6 separate regions of the Homo sapiens genome follow, and all the other regions are reported to be linked to region 1. Evidence: microRNA targets listed by miRTarBase, many of them from high-throughput screens and not tested one by one. Region 1 holds a microRNA gene; each other region holds the end of a gene's coding sequence.
Evidence for each region. The annotated mature microRNA hsa-miR-298 reads AGCAGAAGCAGGGAGGUUCUCCCA and lies in region 1 at 1,223-1,246, shown strand. An mRNA with a match to its seed (bases 2 to 7 or 8) in the 3' UTR can be bound and repressed. Matches are read on the target gene's strand: a 7mer-m8 pairs with bases 2 to 8, a 7mer-A1 pairs with bases 2 to 7 and ends in A, and an 8mer does both.

Region 2: the mRNA of TMEM178B is a reported target of hsa-miR-298. Seed matches in the 3' UTR shown: 7mer-A1 at 2,273-2,279 and 8mer at 1,043-1,050.
Region 3: miRTarBase lists GABRB3 as a target of hsa-miR-298. Seed matches in the 3' UTR shown: 7mer-A1 at 1,035-1,041 and 7mer-A1 at 1,694-1,700.
Region 4: the mRNA of HIVEP2 is a reported target of hsa-miR-298. Seed matches in the 3' UTR shown: 7mer-A1 at 1,443-1,449.
Region 5: miRTarBase lists OR51E2 as a target of hsa-miR-298. Seed matches in the 3' UTR shown: 7mer-m8 at 1,131-1,137.
Region 6: the mRNA of COXFA4L3 is a reported target of hsa-miR-298. Seed matches in the 3' UTR shown: 7mer-A1 at 277-283 and 7mer-m8 at 318-324.

What each region holds. Positions count from the first base shown.
Region 1 is chr20:58,815,418-58,819,525 of GRCh38, reverse strand. MIR298 (microRNA 298) reads left to right here and starts at 1,213; the gene lies at 1,213-1,300. MIR296 (microRNA 296) reads left to right here and starts at 1,832; the gene lies at 1,832-1,911. It also overlaps GNAS-AS1.
Region 2 is chr7:141,469,915-141,474,022 of GRCh38, reverse strand. It overlaps TMEM178B (transmembrane protein 178B), which reads right to left. Exons shown (of 4, transcript NM_001195278.2): 4 at 1-3,487. The coding sequence ends at 3,237. Among named protein-coding and RNA genes, the nearest start is that of AGK-DT, 79 kb to the left of the region's middle.
Region 3 is chr15:26,544,126-26,548,233 of GRCh38, reverse strand. GABRB3 (gamma-aminobutyric acid type A receptor subunit beta3) reads left to right here. Exons shown (of 9, transcript NM_000814.6): 9 at 100-4,108. The coding sequence ends at 441. Among named protein-coding and RNA genes, the nearest start is that of LINC02248, 150 kb to the right of the region's middle. RefSeq lists an enhancer at 767-1,966.
Region 4 is chr6:142,749,820-142,753,927 of GRCh38, reverse strand. It overlaps HIVEP2 (HIVEP zinc finger 2), which reads left to right. Exons shown (of 10, transcript NM_006734.4): 10 at 1-2,459. The coding sequence ends at 821. Among named protein-coding and RNA genes, the nearest start is that of HIVEP2, 190 kb to the left of the region's middle.
Region 5 is chr11:4,678,285-4,682,392 of GRCh38, reverse strand. OR51E2 (olfactory receptor family 51 subfamily E member 2) reads left to right here. Exons shown (of 2, transcript NM_030774.4): 2 at 1-2,222. The coding sequence ends at 644. Among named protein-coding and RNA genes, the nearest start is that of OR51C1, 18 kb to the left of the region's middle.
Region 6 is chr15:45,432,794-45,436,793 of GRCh38, forward strand. It overlaps COXFA4L3 (cytochrome c oxidase associated subunit FA4L3), which reads left to right. Exons shown (of 5, transcript NM_197955.3): 5 at 155-547. The coding sequence ends at 223. It overlaps MIR147B (microRNA 147b), which reads left to right and starts at 257; the gene lies at 257-336. LOC107987223 (a long non-coding RNA gene) reads right to left here. Exons shown (of 2, transcript XR_001751510.2): 2 at 676-1,357.

The DNA.
Region 1 (4,108 bases):
CTGCTCTCCCCCCATCAGAAAAAGGGCCATGTTTTCAAAACCATAACTGCTTCTCTCTTAAATCAACAATAAACAACAGCCTAAAGATTGCCCGTGAAAGTAAGTTCCACTGATGGCCGTTCTGGCCGTTGGAAGCAAGATATCAAGTTGGAGTGTGACCGCAGGCGATCATGCCGCAGGTGAGTGTGTGTGCGCCTGGTTTCATTTCTGTTGTTAATCCTTTGCCCTGTTTTTCTCTTTGTTTTTATTCCAAACCTGTCTGCTCCCAAGGGTCCCTGTCTGCTTCCAAGGGTCCCTGGAACCTTCTGCAGCTGTGCCTCTCCAGAGCTCCGCCTCATTAGTGCCACGTTCCTGGTTTGAAAACCATAGTACTTCAACCTCTTCTAGATGGGAGTTAACCTTTGCCCTCTGAAAGAAAGGTTTGATAAGCAAAGAGAGTTTGGTGAGCAAGATCCTTGAGGTAAGAGCTGATCTCTGACGTCCGCTGGGAACTGGCTGCTCTGCAGGTTTCTGTATCACATTTTCTGCACATGTCCATTAGAATTGGAGATGGGGCGTATCTAGTGTTGAATAAAGGCCCGGCAGGCCCTCCCAGATGCACCCTGTCAGACAGAGCCTACTGTGGATTCTTTAGAAATGGCTTGACTCATTCTTGGTGGCGACCACACCACCCACAGGCACCTAAAATGAAAGGATTTTTGTTAGCTGGTTACCACCAAACCACCTCAGGCAATACGTGGGAGACTCCAAACCAGCTGCTGTTAAAAAAAAAAAAAAGGCAGCAGAGCAGTCATAGAACAGACCCTTCTTACTGCTGCATACAAGATGATCCCATGGAATGCAGGCAGCCACAGCTTTGTCCACATGTGCTCTGTGTATCTGGGGCTGCTAGGCTGGTTAGATTTGTGGTCTTCTTCCTCCTGTGGAGGACCCTAGAGAGAGCCAGCCTGAGCCCTCACCGTTGTTCCTTCCCCGGCAGCACTTACAGAATGATCCTCTAAGACCTCCCCTCCAGCCCTAGCTGGGTTCCTAATTTTCCAGCTATTTAATATCTTCTTTATGTCTCAGTGAATGTTCCCAGGCAGAGTAGCCAGACAGACTCATACTGACAGTTCTCAACAGCCAGTCCCATCCTCCTAAAGATCTCCAGAATCAGCCACATGGACCTGATGCTAGAGGCCTGTCAGCACTGGGGGACCCGGGAGAAGCAGCTCAGGTCTTCAGCAGAAGCAGGGAGGTTCTCCCAGTGGTTTTCCTTGACTGTGAGGAACTAGCCTGCTGCTTTGCTCAGGAGTGAGCTGCCGGCTCCCCTTTGATGTGCTGCGTCTGTTCAGAACTAGGCAGGGGTGCTTCACCGTGGCAGCACTTGAGTTAGGCAGTGGTTCATGGACTCTTCTCCCAGGGCCCCACACAAAACACTGTTAGCACAGACCTGCCACTCAGATCAAGGTGGCCAGCAGAGCCATCAGAGAATAGCCTTCAGAAGATGAATGGCAAGGCCAGCCGGCAGCACGTGAGGCCAGGGCAGAGACGCAGTGAACCGTTCCATGGCGCCCCGAGCCTGCTGCCAAGGCCTCCTTGGAGCTGAGATGGAGGCGGGGTGGCTGAGAGGCAAGCTGGATGTGCATGTTTGGGAAGAGGGCTCCGTAGAAAGTGCTGTAGGGGCCTTGGCTGGGGACCACGTGAGCCCTTGTGCGGAGAGGGCCTGTGTCTGTGGATCTGGGGTCCACCACAGGCCACTGAGATGGGACAGGGCTGGGAGGATTGAGGAGGGAAGATCCTGAGTGAAATTGTGAAATCAGGCCCAGCCTCATGTGGGAGGTGAGGAGAAAGGACCCTTCCAGAGGGCCCCCCCTCAATCCTGTTGTGCCTAATTCAGAGGGTTGGGTGGAGGCTCTCCTGAAGGGCTCTGAAGAGCGCTGCACCCGCAGCTGTGTGCCAGGAGTGGAGACAGGACAGTCGATACAAGAGGGGCCCCTGTCATGTCAGCTGCTGAGTCCCCTGGGGCGGCCGGGCACTGGGGAATGGTGAACTCGCCGTGCCGCGCCTCTGCCACAGTCTCCCGTGGGTCCCCACTGCCGGGAGTTTTACCTACCTCCCACCCTCAGCCACGAGCACCTGCAGGATGCGGTGCCATCCTCGCCGGTGCCCGCTCCCCTTCCGGAGGCTCTCTCCACCCTCACTGACGCCTCCTCGGGAAAGCCCCCGCTCCTTCCCCGACCTCACAGCATGCCAGGTCTGGGGCTTCCGCTGGGGGGCTTACCTGTTTTCCACCCCTGCTAGACTGGGAGCTCCAGGGCAAGGCCGTAGCTGCCTTGCGGATTGTTACGTTGTCCAGCTTGTCTCCACACGTGATACCCAGCAGGTGCCTAATAAACTTGTGTAGAAAGAGTGGTGGATGTTTGCTCTTGTATTTACTCTTCATAGAGCCCAGCTCTGCTTGCTAGAGTCCTCGAAGCAAGTGCGCAGTGTCTGACGGTCTTGGGTTGCTTCTGACTCATGGTGGCTGCTTGGGGGTCATGCTGGAAACATGGCACCCTCAACTCCTGCGTGGAACCAGTTGCCCCCACTGTGATTCCTCTTGCTGCGGCTGGCCCTGCCTTCATGGCATTAGCGCAGCGGGGAGTTGCGGGCTCACTGTCTTAACACCTGTCTCCCCCACCAGACTAAACCCCAAAGGGCAGAACTCTCTCATACACTTAGGACGGAGCAGGTCTCAGGTTATTGCTGGACGGACCAATGGATGAGTGGATGGACAGAGCAAAAAGATGAAAAGACAGGAAGGCAACTGGGGTGTGACAGGCAGGGTGGCCTGACGCTCCCTGTGTGGACAAGACTTGGTGGGAGGTGCCGGGCATGGCTAGGAGGACTTGGGGTGCAAAGTGTCCCCACATCTGTCCTGAGGGCAGAAGCAAGGGTGAGCCTCCCTCCTGCTAGAGCTGGCGGAGTCTCCAAAATAGAGTCCGGACCTGCAGGAACAGTGGCCCTTCCCAGTGCAAGAACGTCACTCAGAGTTGAAAGTTCTGGGGTCTCAGGGACCCCTGAAGTCCATTCTTGAGCCCTTCCCGTGGCTGTGGCCTCCCCTTAGGCAGGGGAAAGGGGGCCAGTGGGGAGCTTCCCCAGGGGCCTCTCTGCAGGAGGCCGCTGGGCACATGGTGGCCCCGCGCTGGGCGCTGTCAGCAGAAGTGCCTGGATCCAGACCCTGGTGGAGACAGCAGGCCAGGAAACCAGTGGCCCCTCTGCCCCCCACTGGGGCCCCATGAGTTACACCAGCCAGGCCCCACAGCTGAGGTACCAGGCGGAAAAGGCCTTGTGTGAATGGGGCAAGAGGCCAGGGGCGCTGGGGAAGGCCAGGAAGAGAGCAGAGAGGCCTTCACTCACACGCAAGCGCACGCCCCAGGGGCTCAGGCCTTGAGACATAGCTTGAGGTGGGGGTGTGGGGGGCTCCCTGCTTGTTCCCGCTAAGGCTGGCACCCCAGCCCTCTCTTTTGGGTGTCCCCATGCCTGGGCTGTGCCGTAGCACAGTTCATGGGAGCCCTGCCCCCAGGCCCTGCAGCCCTCACTGCCCCCAGCCCTGCTGCAGGGTTGGCCTCCCTTCTGTCACCCCACCTGCCACTCGCCCCTCTGTCTCGGGAAAACCCACTGTGATTCCTTTCCAAGGCTGACCTTCCTTCTGGTGGCTTCTGCCCCATTCCAGCTCCCCTTTCCCCATGGGATCATTAGACACCGAGCCCTCCCGAGGGCCCAGCCATGTGGGTGGAACACGGCAGTCACAGAAGAGGGAAGAGCCCTTTCTGCATGGAGCTTGCTTCTGGAGGGGAGAGACAGACCACCAACAGGAAGTGGGTGGGCTGTGTCGTGTGTGGAAAAGCGGCATGCTGGGAAATGAAGCGGGGCAGGGGAGCAGCAGCGGCTCTCCCAGGCTTCCCTCCTGCGGCATCTGTGCACCCCAGGCCTTCACCCTAGCACTGCTGACCTTCAGGGCTGCTTCCATCCCTGGTGGGGGCCGTCCTGGGGATTATAGAGTGTTCAGCAGCTCCCCGAGCTAGATGCTAGGAGCCACCACCACCAACGCCAAAAAAAGATAGATGCATTTGCCACCTGGCTG
Region 2 (4,108 bases), not on the chromosome of region 1:
TAAGGTTGGGTTCCACTTTGATTTGGAGTTAGCAGAGTCTGACCTACAGAGCCTCACAAGTCAAGGCTCCTCTCTTCCTCCTCCTCATCTCCCTCAGCTACCTCACAGCCAGAAAGCTTCCGTAACTGGTTGGAGTCACATGTTTTAATCTGTGGTCAAGCCCTTATGCTAGAGGGATCAAGGTCACCTGAGAAGTCCTCCCATTGGCCAGGACTTGCCGTCTGAAAGGGGCCTCTATCCTGGTCATGTGGCTGGGCGTCTTTTGCTTCCCAGCAGGATCAGATCCCAAAGTGTGTTCGTATTTATCTGGTCCTGCTATCAAAGAAGTCACTCAAAGCCCCTGCTCTGGGCTGGTGAGTTGAGCCCAGGTTGTTTACGTCTTTCCTGGGAGCTTTCTAACATTTCAGGAACTCTCAAGGTTTCAAAGGGATGCAGTAAGCTTTGCTAAATGTCTGTCACAAAGACAATAATTGGATAGAGCAGATAATCTATTCATTGAAAGTATGGGATTTTTTTTTAAAAAGAGGATATAAATAATGATAGGTCTGTGAGCCAGCATCCTCAAACATGATTACTTACAAAAAGTTTAAATGGTTCATAGCAAATTTCCCCATTTAGAATTTTTCCCCTCTCTCCTGCAACTGGAAAAAAGCTGGAATTTCAGTGTGGTCATAGACAAGCCCTCTCCCCCAAATGGATGCTTGTGAACCTGTCTGTCCCTTCCTCGGCAGAGCCCCTTCAGGACGCTTGGAAGGAAGACAAAAGGCCTCTCAATCTGAGATACTTTTCTTCACTTTTCCTTAAGCCCAAGTATGCCCTTCCCCTTAAGGGAGAAATCTAACTTTTCAAAGAAAATTAGAAATAAAATGCCCAATTGAAAAACTGGGTTTTCCTGAAAATTATTTCCCTTCTCATAGAATAAATCCTTTGTTTTAAAAATAATCCTTAGAACCCCAACTGGAAGCTAACAACTTTTCCCGTTGCACACCTTACCCTATCGCCCAGCACACCCACACACAGGGAACTCACACATGAGACCTTTTGCAGAAGCTGACCAGAGTCCCCGGTAAGGAAGTCTTGAGTAGGGCACCCACACCTGTGTGCAGGTGTGTACTGACACAAACGTACACAAAATGCACCAGAGAGATACACATACAGAGAGATCCACATTCAACCCCATTCATGCACATCAGATGTCATATCATATCCAGATATGAATTACATACACGCAGTTCAAAGGAGCAGATGAGGGTGGAAGATAGAAGAGAGAGAAGGTAAGTGGTTAGTAGGTGAGAAAAGGAGGAGAGTGGTAGGAAGATGGGTTGGAAGACGTGTAAATGAAACAGATTACACAGCAGTGGAAGAAAGGCTGCTGAGTGCCTGGCAAAGCTCCCAAAGCATATTTGTTTATGAAACAAGGGGATTCTCTGCTACACAGTTGACCATGGCTACACCAGCTCAGGGATTCTCACCTGGCCTCCCCAGGGCTGCTGGGCACCAGCAGGCTCACTGAGATGACTGTGAGCGGCTCCAGCCCACTCCAGCAGACTCCCACCCCTACAGCGTTCACAACTCTCTGGCTGACTTTGCTTGCCAGCACCTGCAGTGCTAATTTGCTCAAATGAGCCCGAGACACTGGGGTGGATTTATTCCACCTCTGTTTGGGTGCTAGCCACTAAGACTGTTATTTTGGGATTCATGGCCTTGAATATCAAGAGGGAAAGGAAGAGGATGGAAAGAGTCAAGAGTTCTGCATTAATTTACACAATATCATACAAACTTGAGCCCATGGGAAATGGAGGTGCTCTCTCTGCATGTGACCCACTTCCTTTCGTTTGTACAGAGGTCACCCCTAGGGAAAGGGGAGATGTCCAGTGACAAAGGACAGCTTCTATAATGGGGAGTGAAGGTCTTGTTGGTTTATGTTCTTGTACAACAGCAACCAGAGCAACATTTCTTCTCTCTCCTGAACTGTGTGTTCCCCCTCTTCTCTCATGGCTTATGTGCCCAGCTGTGTCTTGAACTTCCAAAATTAGAGGACTAAATCGTGCAGAGTCCCAGAGCTGTAATGTGGAGAACCACGGGGGTCCTCTGGCCCAGTGGCTTTGTTCTTGGTTCTGCCCTCTGGAAATTTCAGCTATACCAGAAACAATTTAAAAAAACACAACACAAACAATAAAACCCCACGCTCAAGAAACATCCACCACACACACACACACACACACACACACACACACACACGCACACACACACCACTCCAGGGATCTGTAGCTGCAGAATTGGCACCCTTATAGGCCTGTCCCTCATGACAATTTCTAGGTCTCTGGGCCTCTATCTGGGGCCATGAAACCACTACAGTGATAAGAGAGACAACAGTCATAATGCAGTATTTCCATTTAAAAGGTAGAAAAGAAAAAAAGGAAACCGCCCAAAGTACACATGCACGCACACCCACACACACACATCACAGCATGACTCCAAGGCTCCAGTCTGCCCAGGGAGTGCAGGTGCGGCTGGGGACAGGGTGGCCTCTTGTTTCACTGGGTGTAAGGCAGCTGGAAGGTAAGACTGGGTTGTCTGAGCATCCACCGAAGCGTCCTTTCATTGATGCAGATCTTGCCTCTCAGCATGTTCTCTTCCCTTCCCACCTATGAAACATGGTCCAAAAGTTTGGCAGCAAAGAGAAAACGTCCTTCTCAGTTTGTTTTCTCTTCCACTCCTTGTGTGTTGCTGGTGGGCTGGGAAGGAAGTCCGAACAGGAAGAGCAGGAGAAGAAGTGATTCTGAAAATGGCCTCAATAATTTGGTTACATTCTAGGAACTGAGGGCTTTGTTACCCTGTGATATGACTGGTTAGGGGTGGCGTCCTCTCCCGTTGACCCAGTGGGTGGCACTTCCTTCTCTACATCTGTGCTGCCTCAGACCCCTTCCACTGTCCCTTCACCACCCCATCCTCGCCAGTGATGGGGATCAAGACGCGGTCGCAAGTGGTGGTGTTTGCTCTGTCTTCAAGAGACCATGAAGCCAAAAGTCAAGAACTGATGGAAGAGCCACAGGATGGAAAAACTTTCCCCATCTCAGAGATGAGGCAACACAAAGTCCGGCGAGATGCAGGTGCCTGAGCCAACTCAACTCTACCTTGGCACTGGCATCGTCTTGATTTAGTTTTGTTTTGTTTTATATATGTATATTATATATATATATTTATATATATATATGTATGTATGGGTTTGTTTTTTAGCACACTGTCCCATTCTCGGGTCTGGATTTAGGGTAGTTGGTCCTCGGGACAGGTTGAACAGAAGGGGCTAAGGTACAGAAGAATCCCGAGATGAGTGTGAGGCCCAGGCCCCCCCATGCACAGAACATGGACCAGCCATAGCCATGGCTGATGTCATCAGGGAGTCCGTACAGGTAGCGTGGGTAGCGTGACAGCTCAAAGTTGATCCCGGCCACACAGGTGCACAGTGAAATGATGCAGAAGGTTCCTGGAGGACAAGGGAAAAGACACAGGATGGGGAAATGGAGAAGGAAAGGGGAGAGGAGCGGGAGAGAGAAAGAGAAAAGTTAATATTATTACATTTTCAATTTTCTTGAGTAGGAAAAATGGGAAGTCTAGGTAAGAGCAGGTTATCACCAAGGTCAGTATCTGGAAATATTCATGGAGCAGAGAATAGTATTAAAGGATCATCACTTCATCACTCTCCAATAATGGCCCAGTCTTGGACACACTCGGGAAGTCTCTCCTTTGGGAAGATGCTAAATAGATATCTCATGAGCATTTTGTGTGGGGTAGAGTGAGCAGAAGAGCATTCAGTTCATTTTCCTAAAGCATTTTAAATTCATTGTATTTCTTTGGAGACATGGAAAACACCTACTGTTTGCTACTTCTTTAAAGAGAAAAACAATCTTTTCTCTTTCTTATACATAACAACTTACTCATACAGTATTAGGTTTTCCTTTAATCTGTTCACCAACAATTCTTCCAAAACCTGGAAATATTTTCCTTTTTCCTATAAGACATTTCCCAAAGTGTTCTCTCTGGAGTGCTAACGCTATGAGATCCTTTACAAAGTGGGAGGCAGAGTCAAAAGACGGGGAATCCTACT
Region 3 (4,108 bases), not on the chromosome of region 1:
ACATGCAACATGTGATGGCATGACATCATTCTGTCCGGGATCTGCATAGGGAAATTATGCTGCTGGCTGTCTAACCATGTGCATTTTCCGTCCAATTAGGTGGATGCTCATGGAAATATTCTGTTGACATCGCTGGAAGTTCACAATGAAATGAATGAGGTCTCAGGCGGCATTGGCGATACCAGGAATTCAGCAATATCCTTTGACAACTCAGGAATCCAGTACAGGAAACAGAGCATGCCTCGAGAAGGGCATGGGCGATTCCTGGGGGACAGAAGCCTCCCGCACAAGAAGACCCATCTACGGAGGAGGTCTTCACAGCTCAAAATTAAAATACCTGATCTAACCGATGTGAATGCCATAGACAGATGGTCCAGGATCGTGTTTCCATTCACTTTTTCTCTTTTCAACTTAGTTTACTGGCTGTACTATGTTAACTGAGTGACTGTACTTGATTTTTCAAAGACTTCATTTAACACTGAGTGAAATATTACTCTGCCTGTCAAGTTTTTATACCTGTACACACACAGACACACAAGCAGACACACACATATATACATACGCAATTGTATATATATGTGAACTTTCTCAGCATATATATAAAATACACGTGTATATGAGGATGTATGTGTATATGTTTATACACACAGGAGTCAGTGCCCATGTGTATGGAAGACAAATACACATACATATATACATTTTGCAGCTATGGACAATTTACCACAGGATGCATATTAAAGAAAGTCATAGTTTTTTTCTTTTTTAATTGAAAGGGACAAGTATCATCTAAATATTATGCCTTGAGAATGAGGGCGTGAAACACAATATCATCCCCAAATGTGTCTTGTATTATCATAAGTTAGATGTTTTAGTTTAAAAATCAGAAAGACATTCTTAGTTAATCTTTGAAAACTCATACAGTGGTATTGCTAGTTTAAAATGAGTCACTTACTTCATATCCTCTCGTTCAGTTTAGTAAGCAAAGGCTTCTTGGCTTCTCTGGTGATGGGGTTTGTTTTCATCGGGCATACGTTTTCTGCAATGGTTTAGTGGCTGGGGTGAGCCACTGGCAGTGTGCTTACCTGTTGTCTGAAACATAGATAGATCCCACGTTGATGTCTGAACGACCGTCTTTTGAAAACTCATCGGGAGTGAATGGCATCTCGTTGTAAGTACTCTAATATACAGTGTGTAGTTTGTTTCTGTTGTTCACTTGGAGTGGATCCAGCTTCACTGTCATGTGCGAACACAGTGACACGTTTGGCCAGTGACATTTCAATCACTGAAAATGTGCTCTACATCTCGTATGGATTTCTAGGCCTGATATCCAACAGAAAGCATAGACGTCTCAGGTTATTCGTTACTCTAAGGTAAAACCATCTAGGATGATTTTCCCCCTTGCAGTTATGTTATCATTCTTATAACATTGTATGTTAATAGAAAATATATTTGCATAATATGCATATATATGTATATTTACCAAGATTTTGTTTCTTACGCTTGCTATCATGGCAGCATGCGATGTCATATTTTCCTTTATGTGATGTAACTACTTTCTGTTATCTAGAAATTAAGATTGAAGCTAAAACACTTCTACTGTTCAATTTCAGAAACTAAGAATCATCCTCATGCCTTTATTTCTGTATCTGACATATTTCATAAGCACATCCAACTACTCCTAGACTGACTAGGATTCTGCAGGAACATGACCCGTACACACCACGCGTCACCCAACGACCCATGACCGTTCTCTGAGGCAAAGGAGGGCAACCTGACAGCAAACACAGTCACTGTTGGTTCCTTCTGATCCACAGCCTCATCAGTATTTGGACTTTTTAAAGCTCGTAGAAACAAGACAAGGTGCACCGGTTTCATAGACGCAACCTTAACTTACTATTTAGATGAGATCTTTCTAAAGAAAAAAAAAAGAGATGATATATTTTTTGTAAACAATATTTCTATCACAGGCATCCATAAACTGAAATGACTACAGTTGTGCAAACAGGTGTCACAGTGAAGTTGAGCATTTGGAGAAAAAAATAAAAAGCAAAATTTGCAGGAAGAACTGCTAAATTAATACTTTATCCCAAAATGCCACGTATGCCTCACCCTCTCTGTTCTATCCAAAACCAAGGACCAGAGTGCTCCAATGGTAGGCCCCAGTTGTCTCGATGTAGGTAGAGGCACCACCCTCCCCGAGGATGCGTGTGGTGTGGACTATCCCCATGAGCTGACCACTACTTGATTTTTCTTTGGTGGCCGTAACAACCTTTAATTTGTGGGCATCTGCAACAGTTCAAAACCCACCATCAGATAAAACATAATCCACAAAATCTCACGCTAGAGGCAATTACCTACTTTTAGACCCTTTTCCCTCTTTCATTCCTATCTTTTTCCTCCTAATCGCTGCTCTCTGGTTTTATTTTCATCTGGAGACTAGCCAGGGATTTCTTTGGCTTTGGCTTTTCTCTGACCATTTTTTCCATGGGTAACAATGGGGGATCCTAAAAGTTAAACAGATTGGGAAAAACCTTGTTAAGTGGCCTTATCATTATTATCATGTTAAAGAAAAAAAATACATTTGCAAAGACCTTATCCCTTTCAATACTTCAGGTATCTTTTTCTGTATCCAGTAATTAAAGGTGTGAGGTCCACATGCAGAAGAGGGACCCCAAAATGTAAATGGATGTGGACAAAAACAGTCAATGGTCTATTTAAGTGTATAATTTATACTATTCAGAACTGTGACATTAATTCTTTCTGGGAGAAAAGTGATTTAAAACTTTTTTGATGCATAGTTGAGGTACCCAAATATCAAAGGCAGAGACCCCATGGGGCTCCAAAGAGCTGCAGTCTCCTTCCCAAGGTTTTCTGGATATAAATTTGCATGGTATAGTCATAATAGCTTTTGAGCTTTTTATATGCATTTGGCACCAAGACTGGGATCCACAACTTTGTAGACACTGCGATGAAGTTAACATATTAGCTATACTATAAATAGTGTTTGTAACTACACACACACACACACACACACACACAAATACATACATATATTCTGTAAAAACAAAAAAAAACTTTTTAAGATCCTTGGGTATGTGTTTGCTTTACTCCATTTCAGAAGAAAATTACTTTTCTTCTAACAAAATTATTTTATAGCTTCTCCATTTTTAAAACTTGTGAGAGCATTGAGAAGAGAACTCTGACTGTGTTAACAGAAGAGAGTTGAATTGGAGTCTCTGTTGTGTTAAAATGACCTCTCGTTACTCCACAGTAGTTATTTGAGCCAGTGACTGAGTCGCGTTGAGGAATTCTGAACCCGGACCTCTGACGTTGTTGGGAGGTGGCTGTTACCCACACCCAGACCTCTTGAGTAAGGACAGAAACGTTATCATTGGGGATATAATGAGATTTCTTTCTTAACAATTGAAAGTAATAAAGAGTTAATTTTCTCAGTAGTCCTGTCTTTCCAAAATGCGCCACAGGGGCTCAAGATCTACAGAAGAATCTTGTTATGACAGTTTGTTATTACCCATATTCAGATATCCTTGAGATAATGGAAGAGCCCTGCTACATAACTCCCTACAGAGAAAGACTGATAGACTTGAGTAGTCCTTAAAACAAGTGTTATTCCTGTTCACCAACCCCGGGACTGTGGAGGGGTTTCACTGTCTATACCATGCGACATCCATTTCCCCTGAATCTCAAACGAACTAGAAAGTATGTCATGATAATATTTCCATTAGATTTGGAAGCTACCTGTACATCTGCAATATTGTGTTTTTAACGCCAGCACCCAGAACTTTGACATGTTCAGTCACTCCCTGAAAGGCACTTCTCTCTTGTCCAAACACAGCGTTGACATTTTTACTGAGGAGATCATCTCAAAGGTGATGCCAAACGAGTCTGGGGCTGGTTTTAAGGGGACAGGCACATTGCAGTTGTAGGTGTTCATTTTCAGCATCTAGTAGATAATCCATTGGTGTTTGTCCCACCATTGGTGTATTCTAACAAGAATGTGTCCAACTTTGAATCTCCTGGCTTGAAAGTATAAACCATCACTTAATTCTTATTTTAACTCTCCACCTGAAAACCAGTTCATATTTCTGGC
Region 4 (4,108 bases), not on the chromosome of region 1:
TAAGAAGAGGATTACCTCAGGTTCCTTACTTCAGTCTCTATGGAGACCAAGAAGGTGCTTATGAACATCCAGGCTCCAGCCTTTTCCCTGAGGGTCCTAATGACTATGTCTTCAGTCATCTTCCACTCCACTCTCAGCAACAAGTGCGAGCCCCTATCCCCATGGTGCCCGTTGGTGGGATCCAGATGGTTCACTCCATGCCGCCAGCCCTTTCCAGTTTACATCCTTCACCCACATTGCCCCTGCCAATGGAGGGCTTTGAGGAGAAGAAAGGCGCGTCAGGGGAGTCCTTCTCCAAGGACCCCTATGTGCTTTCTAAGCAGCATGAGAAGCGAGGTCCTCACGCTTTGCAGTCATCTGGTCCACCTAGCACTCCCTCCTCTCCTCGGCTGTTGATGAAACAGAGCACTTCGGAAGACAGCCTAAACGCAACAGAGCGGGAACAGGAGGAAAATATACAGACTTGTACAAAAGCCATTGCCTCTCTCCGGATTGCCACGGAAGAGGCAGCTCTGCTCGGGCCAGATCAGCCAGCGCGGGTGCAGGAGCCCCACCAGAACCCCCTGGGAAGTGCACATGTTAGCATTAGACACTTTAGTAGACCTGAGCCAGGTCAGCCCTGTACCTCAGCCACCCACCCTGACTTGCATGATGGTGAAAAGGACAATTTTGGTACATCACAGACTCCATTAGCTCACTCCACGTTTTACAGCAAGAGTTGTGTGGATGACAAGCAGTTGGACTTTCACAGCAGCAAGGAATTATCTTCAAGCACAGAGGAAAGCAAAGATCCTTCATCAGAAAAGAGTCAGCTACATTGATCTATGATGCATGGAGACTTTCATTTCCACATTTTCCCATTTTTTTGTTTTTGTTTTTCTAGAAATGGAGGTAATCCAGTTTATAGCATGCCTGTCCTAAGTTACAGTAGTTTGCTATTATATATACTTTTGTTATATCAAAAGAATTAGGTAAATTAACAAGTCATCATGAGCCTGACCAAAACAAAATTTGAAATTAACCTATTGGGTCTGGTACTTTTAAAATTGTACAGATGTTTGTGCCTTTTCTTTACTTTGCTTATATTCTTATAAGCATTTTTTAGCAGTAATTTGTACATATTTTAGAATTTGTGTATCTGCTTTGTAATAAATGTAATTTCTTTCCTTTTTTGGACACTTGGATCTAAATGATGTAAAGCAAAACAGCATCAATATATATGTGAGGTTGCACTAAAACATATTTTTATATGATTAAAACTGAACAGCTTTTATGTACAGCTCTGATTCTGTAATACTAATATTTATTTACTTTGTTTCATAAATTGTACATTTTTTCTTAATGTTGTGGATTGCTTTTCTATGTGAAGCATGGGATTTACTGTTGCGTAACTAGAACAAAAATGTACATTGTAAACAAGATATTTAAACTAGAGTATCTTATTCTGCACTTATGCATTAGTTAAAAAAAGATAAAGGATGTATCAGTCAGTTCTTAACTCTTGTATATTTTTTTGTCTCTTGTTTGCTGGATTGACTATAACTTAAGTGCTGATTGTGATTTTAAAATGATAGTACCGTAAAGCATTAAAGTAAACAATGTGCTATTGTGAGTTTTTTCAAAGCTTTATAAATCAGTTATAAATAATATTAAAAGTATTTGGTCTTATGTGAACATGTTGATCTATATACTCATCTAAAAATATGGGAAAACATTCCACCCCATGTAAATATGTACAAGTGCATCACTGGTACAATTTTATGTAACTCAGTTGGACACTAGGTTGCCACAGACCTATGCTAGGTGTCTTTAAAAAATTAAGGTGACAAAGCACATGGGACTGTGTAGAGCTTGGTTATCGGCCGGCCCGGTGGCTTGGCAGGCAGTGCTGTGCGCTGCTCATGGAGAAGACCTGGGCTTAGCAATCTCCTTAGTTCTTGCTACACAGGATGGTGACTGGAACTAAGGCTACACAGAGGGTCGCACTTGGACTCTGAGGGTTGGGTGTGGAAGGGGGAAAAGGAGATGGAGACCTGCTCCCCAGCTCTTCCTGTCAGCCGGTTTACATGGGAACAGGGTTAACATCTGTGTTAGGGGAGGTCACCTTACCCTTTTTCATAGGGGAAGAGTGTCACACTCCTGGCTATCTCAGGGGGAATGGGGAAAAGAATCTTTCAAGGGCAAAGAACTCGTGGGAGGATGTCTGTTGTATGTAATACTCACAATGGCTTTTGGTTAGTGTTGAAGGTGGGAAGAGCATTTGTAGGTCCAGAAGAGTGAAAGAGAGGGAGGGGTGCAGCAACATGTGCACAGGCACGCACATGTGTGCACGCACACATACAATCTGGGTTATCTTTGTGCTATATAGTGGATTATAATTCTGTGAAACCAAGTTTGTATATTGAATTACATTAAGGAGTGTTCTTTAAAAAGAGAAATAAATATACAATTACATGCTTGAGGTGTCTAGTTCTTATGTGTTGCTTTACATTTTAATTTCCCAATTTTGTTTCTAAAGTAATTTTGATACTAGCAACATACCATCTGTGCTTTTAATTGCTAGGCTCTGCCCATCCTGAGTGTGAATGCTTTTAACAAGTGAGAAGACAGTCATTGGCTTCCATAGATTATCTGATTAGAACAGATAGTGGTCACCAAGGTGTGGGCCCTAGGAATAGACTTATCCAAACCTCAGCATGGGCCTGGGCAGCATACGTTGCATCTGAACAGATTCATGAATAAAGCAAATTATCATTTTTCCTCTGCCTCTCTTGCAGTATGCATACTTATCTGAAATTCCACTGGGGAAACCTCTTCTTTCTTTTTGCTAAGGTGGCTGAAGCTAAGAATCAACTAAAATATATCAGAAGATACCCACAAATCACAGTTCTTTTATTAGAATGAGTAGAATCTTTTTAATAATAAGAGCAGAAGCTCATTAAAAGTCAAAACCTATTAGTATTTTCACTATAAAAATCTCAAATTTGTGGATTTACAATGTACCTATTTGCTTTTATGAGCCAGACTGTCTTTTTAAACTGTGTTTTACAAAGGTGATTTAAAGGTCAACACAGACACTCTAATATCTGTCTCTTACCAAGAAGAATCTTTTGATTATGTAGGGTGATTTGTGTGTCATATTCCTCATTGATGTGTGCGTGCGTGTGTGTGTGTGTGTGTGTGTGTGTGTGTGTGTGTTGGTGATCCCAGGCCAAATCAAATTACTCTGTTTCCTCCTCTACCTAATTCATCACTCATTTATTCAGTCATTCATTCATTCATAAAAGTTATTGAGTGCCAACTATGAACTGGGTACGATAGTGGGCATTTATTTTTATTTTTATTTATTTATTTATTTATTTATTTATTTATTTATTTGAGAGTCTTACTGCAGGCCAGGCTGGAGTGCAGTGGTGCTATCTCAGCTCACTGCAACCTCCGCCTCCCAGGTTCAAGTGATTCTCCCATCTCAGCATCCTGAGTAGCTGGGTCTACACGTGCATGCCACCATGGCTAATTTTTGCATTTTTAGTAGAGACAGGGTTTCACCATGTTGGCCAGGCTTGTCTCAAACACCTGGCCTCAAGTGATCTGCCTGCCTCAGTCTCCCAAAGTGCTGGGGTTACAGGTGTGAACCTAATGCTCCCAGCCTGGTGGTGGGCATTTAGAATTAATAAAGAGTATCCGTGCCACCAAGGAGCTCAAGTAAATAGGAAAGACATATATGTAAGTAAATGTGGATAATATGATGTTTGAGCTAAAATAGTTGCACATTTGGTTTTATAACCATAAAGGGAGAGAGAAATCATCCTGGAGAGAGCAATCATCCTGCTGAGAATGAAGAAAAGCTTCATCACAGAGGTAGCCTTAGAACAGATCCTTGAAACAATAAATTGACTAATTCATTCAACGTAGCTTTTCATCACCTACATTGGAGTACTCTTGTGTGTGCTAGGTGTCCAATATGGCACAAAACAGATAAAGTCCTTGCCTTAATGGAGTTTATATTCTAGAGGAGAGGGCAATATAAAAAATTAGTGGGAAAACGCATATTAGATCTGATCTGAGATGTGTAAAGCAATTAATGTGTAAAAAGCAAGATGTAGCT
Region 5 (4,108 bases), not on the chromosome of region 1:
CAGCCATTGAATCCACCATCCTGCTGGCCATGGCCTTTGACCGTTATGTGGCCATCTGCCACCCACTGCGCCATGCTGCAGTGCTCAACAATACAGTAACAGCCCAGATTGGCATCGTGGCTGTGGTCCGCGGATCCCTCTTTTTTTTCCCACTGCCTCTGCTGATCAAGCGGCTGGCCTTCTGCCACTCCAATGTCCTCTCGCACTCCTATTGTGTCCACCAGGATGTAATGAAGTTGGCCTATGCAGACACTTTGCCCAATGTGGTATATGGTCTTACTGCCATTCTGCTGGTCATGGGCGTGGACGTAATGTTCATCTCCTTGTCCTATTTTCTGATAATACGAACGGTTCTGCAACTGCCTTCCAAGTCAGAGCGGGCCAAGGCCTTTGGAACCTGTGTGTCACACATTGGTGTGGTACTCGCCTTCTATGTGCCACTTATTGGCCTCTCAGTGGTACACCGCTTTGGAAACAGCCTTCATCCCATTGTGCGTGTTGTCATGGGTGACATCTACCTGCTGCTGCCTCCTGTCATCAATCCCATCATCTATGGTGCCAAAACCAAACAGATCAGAACACGGGTGCTGGCTATGTTCAAGATCAGCTGTGACAAGGACTTGCAGGCTGTGGGAGGCAAGTGACCCTTAACACTACACTTCTCCTTATCTTTATTGGCTTGATAAACATAATTATTTCTAACACTAGCTTATTTCCAGTTGCCCATAAGCACATCAGTACTTTTCTCTGGCTGGAATAGTAAACTAAAGTATGGTACATCTACCTAAAGGACTATTATGTGGAATAATACATACTAATGAAGTATTACATGATTTAAAGACTACAATAAAACCAAACATGCTTATAACATTAAGAAAAACAATAAAGATACATGATTGAAACCAAGTTGAAAAATAGCATATGCCTTGGAGGAAATGTGCTCAAATTACTAATGATTTAGTGTTGTCCCTACTTTCTCTCTCTTTTTTCTTTCTTTTTTTTTTATTATGGTTAGCTGTCACATACAACTTTTTTTTTTTTTGAGATGGGGTCTCGCTCTGTCACCAGGCTGGAGTGCAGTGGCGCGATCTCGGCTCACTGCAACCTCCACATCCCATGTTGAAGTAATTCTTCTGCCTCAGCCTCCCGAGTAGCTGGGACTAGAGGAACGTGCCACCATGACTGGCTAATTTTCTGTATTTTTTAGTAGAGACAGAGTTTCACCATGTTGGCCAGGATGGTCTCGATCTCCTGACCTTGTGATCCACCCGCCTCAGCCTCCCAAAGTGTTGGGATTACAGGTGTGAACCACTGTGCCCGGCCTGTGTACAACTTTTTAAATAGGGAATATGATAGCTTCGCATGGTGGTGTGCACCTATAGCCCCCACTGCCTGGAAAGCTGAGGTGGGAGAATCGCTTGAGTCCAGGAGTTTGAGGTTACAGTGATCCACGATCGTACCACTACACTCCAGCCTGGGCAACAGAGCAAGACCCTGTCTCAAAGCATAAAATGGAATAACATATCAAATGAAACAGGGAAAATGAAGCTGACAATTTATGGAAGCCAGGGCTTGTCACAGTCTCTACTGTTATTATGCATTACCTGGGAATTTATATAAGCCCTTAATAATAATGCCAATGAACATCTCATGTGTGCTCACAATGTTCTGGCACTATTATAAGTGCTTCACAGGTTTTATGTGTTCTTCGTAACTTTATGGAGTAGGTACCATTTGTGTCTCTTTATTATAAGTGAGAGAAATGAAGTTTATATTATCAAGGGGACTAAAGTCACACGGCTTGTGGGCACTGTGCCAAGATTTAAAATTAAATTTGATGGTTGAATACAGTTACTTAATGACCATGTTATATTGCTTCCTGTGTAACATCTGCCATTTATTTCCTCAGCTGTACAAATCCTCTGTTTTCTCTCTGTTACACACTAACATCAATGGCTTTGTACTTGTGATGAGAGATAACCTTGCCCTAGTTGTGGGCAACACATGCAGAATAATCCTGTTTTACAGCTGCCTTTCGTGATCTTATTGCTTGCTTTTTTCCAGATTCAGGGAGAATGTTGTTGTCTATTTGTCTCTTACATCTCCTTGATCATGTCTTCATTTTTTAATGTGCTCTGTACCTGTCAAAAATTTTGAATGTACACCACATGCTATTGTCTGAACTTGAGTATAAGATAAAATAAAATTTTATTTTAAATTTTGCTGAGTGTTATGCCTATTGATTTTACATTTATAGAATCCTATAAATCAGAATTGGAGATGTGAGTGATTTCCTAGTCTTCTTTCTCACCAGTGCAGGAATCCTGACTGGAATGGTTCACACGTTAGTAAGGATGCTGAATGCATCTTATTTCAAGGTAGGGTATTCCCACTGTACTTTTGAGCAGATCCAGTGAGCAGCTGAGATCTGAATACAATCATTGGGCCTATATGTTCCCTCTGTAGCTTCACTAAACAAGTCTTGGGTGCAGGACTTGGGTAGATAAACCATGAGGGAGACTCTATACTGTAGGCTCTCTCTTAGGAGGAGGGAACCACAGATACTTGATGTGTACTGATGACAGATTCTGCTAGCATATAGATCTGTGAGCATTCAACTGTGCTTCATTGTTCAGAGGCAGTAAAGTGGCTTCCAAAGTCATGCAGTTAATCAATGTGCATAGGCCAGGGCTAAGGGGAGAAAACACAATGGAAGAAATGGGTGATTTCTCTAAAGAAATGAAAGTGTACCCATGCTCTGTAAAGTGGAGATTCAGGTGTTGGGCCCCACCCTCAAATAATGAGGTCAGGTGCCTCATTTTATGAGGTTAAACTCTGTTATGTCTCTCCCCACAATCTCAGTCCTCTTCTACCTTCCTGTCCGTTGCTTTACCGCAATTTGGATCCTCCAGCCTACTTCCATATGCCTAACAACATAGCCATATTGACAATTTAATGAATAGTGGATTTCTTTCTCTCTCTTCTGTGAATAGCTAATCCCTTACTGTCTCCCACTATGATAGGTTGTTTATATATTCTTACTATCTCCTCTCCCCTTTCCTCTGTCCTAAGATTTTTAACTTTTAAAAGTAGCCCAGGCTGGGCACGGTGGCTCACGCTTGTATTCCCAGCACTTTGGGAGACTGAGGAAGGTGTATCACCTGAGGCCAGTAGTTTAAGACCAGTCTGGCCAATATGGTAAAATCCCATCTCCACTAAAAATACAAAAATTAGCCAGGTATGATGGTGGGTACCTGTAATCCCAGCTACTCTGGAGGCTGAGGCAGAAGAATCACTTGAACCAGGGAGGCGGAGCTTGCAGTGAGTCCAGATCACCACCACTGCACTCCAGCCTGGGCGACAGAGTGACACTCCTTCTCAAAAAAAAAAAAAAAAAAAAAAGTAGGCCAAAGACTTCTGTGCCAATGTTCATAGCAGCATTATCCACAATAACCAAAAGGTGGAAATAACCCAAATGTCCATCAACAGATGAATGGATAAACAGAATGTGGTTTATATATACAGTGGAATATTATTCATTCTTAAAAATCTGGTACCTGCTACAACATGGATGAAACTTGAAAACATTATGCTAAATAAAATAAGCGAGATGATAAAAGGACAAATAATATATGATTCCACTCATATAAGGTATCTAGAATAGGCAAATTCATAAAGAAAGAAAGTAGAATACAGGTTACCAGGGGCTGGGGGAGGGGAGGATGGAGAGTTATTGTTTATGGGTGCAGAGGTTCAGTTTGGGATGATAAAAAAAGTTCTGGAAATAGATAGTGGTTATGGTTGTACAACAATATGAATCTGCTTAATGTTACTGAATTGTACACTTAATGTTTAAAATGTTAAATTTTATTTTATGTATGTTTATCACAATAAAAATTGCAAAAATAATGTAAAACTCTCATTATCAATTTTATCTTAAGAATATGTTGAAATGATTATATTTTAGATGTTAGGTTTAAAATATATTATTGTTTTTTTTTTTTCTTTTTTCAAAATGTGTTGCCAGGTGCTGTGGCTCACGCCTGTAATCCCAGCACTGTGGGAAGCTGAGGTAGGAGGATCGTTTCAGCCCAGGAGTTCAAGAGTA
Region 6 (4,000 bases), not on the chromosome of region 1:
TTTTGTGCATGTTTTAGATATGGAAAGAGGTAGGTACAAACACAATGGTGATGCTTTTTCTAAAGGGGAGTGTGGACAAATCCGAAAGAGGGACATGCAAATGAAAGTCAAATTTTTAACAAAAGGTTTTTTTTTTTTCCTTTTTTCTCTTCAGCTTATAACAATCAACCAACAATGGAAACCCATTGAAGAGTTGCAAAATGTCCAAAGGGTGACCAAATGACGAGCCCTCGCCTCTTTCTTCTGAAGAGTACTCTATAAATCTAGTGGAAACATTTCTGCACAAACTAGATTCTGGACACCAGTGTGCGGAAATGCTTCTGCTACATTTTTAGGGTTTGTCTACATTTTTTGGGCTCTGGATAAGGAATTAAAGGAGTGCAGCAATAACTGCACTGTCTAAAAGTTTGTGCTTATTTTCTTGTAAATTTGAATATTGCATATTGAAATTTTTGTTTATGATCTATGAATGTTTTTCTTAAAATTTACAAAGCTTTGTAAATTAGATTTTCTTTAATAAAATGCCATTTGTGCAAGATTTCTCAAAGATTAGGTATATATTTAAATGGAAGAGAAAATATTTTTATGGGAGAAAAATACATTTGAACCATGAAATTTCATCTTTTAAATAACATCCAGTACAGATTTCTGTGTAAGCTTTTTTTTCCAAGTTCATTCATTCACTAGTAGTTTATTGAGCATCTACTATTTGCAGTATAGCTAACAAAGCCAAAATTTGGTGGGATACGAATAAAAGATGGTAAGTACAATGAGGAAAATGAAGTGGGGATGAGGTTGGAGACTCGCATGAGGACTGACCTTGGAGGAAGTGTAGGATTCTGGAGATGAATTGGAATGCAAGGCATACTGAGATCTGCCCTAAAGATGCCAAGCCAGGCTGGGCGCGTGGCTCACGCCTGTCATCCCAGCACTTTGGGAGGCTGAGGCGGGCAGATCACAAGGTCAGGAGATTGAGACCATCCTGGCTAACACAGTGAAACCCCGTCTCTACTAAAAATACAAAAAATTAGCTGGGCGTGGTGGCGGGCGCCTGTAGTCCCAGTTACTCGGGAGGCTGAGGCAGGAGAATGGCATGAACCCGGGAGGCAGAGCTTGCAGTGAGCTGAGATCACACCACTGCACTCCAGCCTGGGTGACAGAGTGAGACTCCGTCTCAAAAAAAAAAAAAAAATGCCAAGCCATACTGTGATGTTCCTGTGGAGGCTAGGGAGAGGAAGATGGGGAGCCTTGCCAGCGCTCTTCAGAGTTTGGGGCCACTCTTCCCTCTGGCCAATGGTAACTTGAAGGCTGAAGATACATTCATATCCAGCATGCCGCTGGGCTCCCCTGCCTGTCCCTAAAAATGAAATAAGAAGAAAGTTGCTTTTCATTAACTTTTTTTAAAAAAATGGAGATATAATTCACATGTCATAGTATTCACCCATTTAAATTGAACAATTCAGTGGTTTTTAGCGTATTCACAAAGTTGTGCAACCATCTCCATCTACTTTCAGAACATCTTCCTTACCCCAGAAAGAACTCTGTACCATTAGCAGTCATTTCCCTAGTCCCAACCCCTCTGCTCCCAGCCCCAGGGAAATACTAATAAACTGTCTCTATGGATTTGCCCATTCTGGACATCTCATGTAAATGGAATCAGGCAATATGTGACCTTTGGGTTTGGCTCCTTTAACTTGGTATAGTGTTTTTAAGAGTCATCTATGTTGTACCATGTTTATATTATCAGTATTTCATTACTTTTTCTGACAGTACTCTTCCAGTGTAAGGATATGCCATTTTTGTTCATTGGTAAGTTGATGAACATTTGGGTTGTTTCTACTTTTTGGCTATTATGAATAATGCTGCTATGAACAGCCATGTACAAATTTTTGTGTGGCCATATATTTTTGGTTCTCCTAAGTAGGTACCTAAGTTCGTTAACTTTTTTTTTTTTTTTTTTTTTTTTGAGACAGGGTCTTGCTGTGTCACCCAGACTAGACAGGCTGGAGTGCAGTGGCACCATCTCATAAACTTTGCCTCCTGGGCTCAAGCAATTCTCGTGCCTCAGCCTCCTGAGTAGCTGGGATTACAGGCATGCACCACCACCACACCTGGATAATTTTTGTATTTTTAGTAGAGGCAGGGTTTTTGCCATGTTGGCCAGGCTGGTCTTGAACTCCTGACCTCAAGTGATCCAACTGCCTGATCACTTGAGGAAAGGAGTGATCCCTTCCCTCCCCATTGGATCATGGCTAACACCCCTATAACAAAAGACAGGTTAACTAGAAAAAGCATAACACACTTATAGTTTACTTGACATGGTAGCCTTCAGAATGAAGACCCAAAGATATAGGGAAAACTGTTCATTTTTATGCTTATGTTCAATGAAAAGTCGATGTAGAAATATGATTGGACATGTAGAAATATGGACAAAAAGGATATGGTCCTAATGCTATCAGAATAGACTACATGGGGAAGCTCACCAAGGCCTGTCTGCAGCATTTCCTTCTGCTGGGTGTGGGGGTGGGATCCCTCTGGAATGAGTGTCTTAATTTCTTTATGGCCAGCTGTTACATAGAAAGGTGGGGGAAATTTAAGAGCAATATATTTAGGTTTTATGGCTGGCTTTCAGGAAACGGGATTCTGGCTTCTATGGCCGGTCTTGGAGAAGAGGAATTCTAGTTTCTATGGCTCACCTGGGGAAGAATCAGGGTCAACAGACAGGAGGGCAGAGAAACTTTGCTTCTGCGGCCTTCATTTGGGGTATCATTTTTTGGGCTCCAGCGTTACCTTCACAGCAATAACAAATAACTAGGTTTTGCCAGGAACTTGGCAACTCTGAGAGGATTAAAGCAAGACTGCTGCCAACTTCTGTTGCTTCCTTATCACCTCAAGTCGTCTCAGATTAAAGTCTCTGATAGTTGATCTCAAGGAATTACACGTAGCAATTGGGAAGCACATTTTTATTTGCTTAAGCTTCTAAAGTCTAATGTAATGTCATTTGCACAAATAAAAATTAACGGTTGGTCAACTAAGAGAGCAAAGTATAGAGTGTTTTTCAAGGGATGACTGTGGCTTTCAACTTTAAAACACAAACCTGATTGAAATGTGGTGGTGTGAACATGGCAATGGGAGGTACTTTTCTGCAGGTTTAGGAGGGAGAGAGGCCAAAAGCAATGTTGATGCTTAAATTTCAAAAGATTTGGGTTTTGTTGTTGTGTTCTTAGCATTTCCTTCAAACATTTTATTTTGAAATTTTTCAAATATGCAGAGAAGTTGAAAGTTACTCACACTTCTTATCAATTAACATTGTGCCACATTTGCTGTATCTCCCTGTGTATGTATGCTTTTCAAAAATTAACTCGTTGAGGCCAGGCACAGTGGCTCATGCCTGTAATCCCAACACTTTGGGAGGCTGAGGCGGGCAGATGGCTTGAGCCCAGGAGTTTGAGACCAGTGTGGACAACATGGCGAAACATCTCCACTAAAAATGCAAAAATTAGCCAGGTGTGGTGGCACACACCTGTGGTCCCAGCTACTTGGGAGGCTGATGTGGGAGGATCACCTGACCCTGGGAGGTCAAGGCTGCAGACAGCCTTGATCTCACACCACTGCACTCCAGCCTGGGCAACCCAAGTGAGACCCTGTCTCAAAAAAAAAAAAAAAAAAAAGTGTTGAGAACAAGTTACAGACATGAGGCTTTTTTCCCTAAAAATTTAAGCATGTACTCACTGCCTAAGATAAAAGACATTGTAGCTGACTAGAATACCATTATCATCCCTAAGAAAGTTAACATTCATTCAATAATATCACCTATCATAAATATGATAGTGATATCATAAATATCACCTTTTTTTCCTCTAATTGTCTCAAAAATATCCTTTATATCTGTATTTTAAAATCCAGAATCATCTACTCCAAGGTTTACTTGTTGCATTTGTCTAAGTTGTACTGAGTACTTGACTGACTTGTGGTCATGAAAATGACTCCAAAGCAGCTT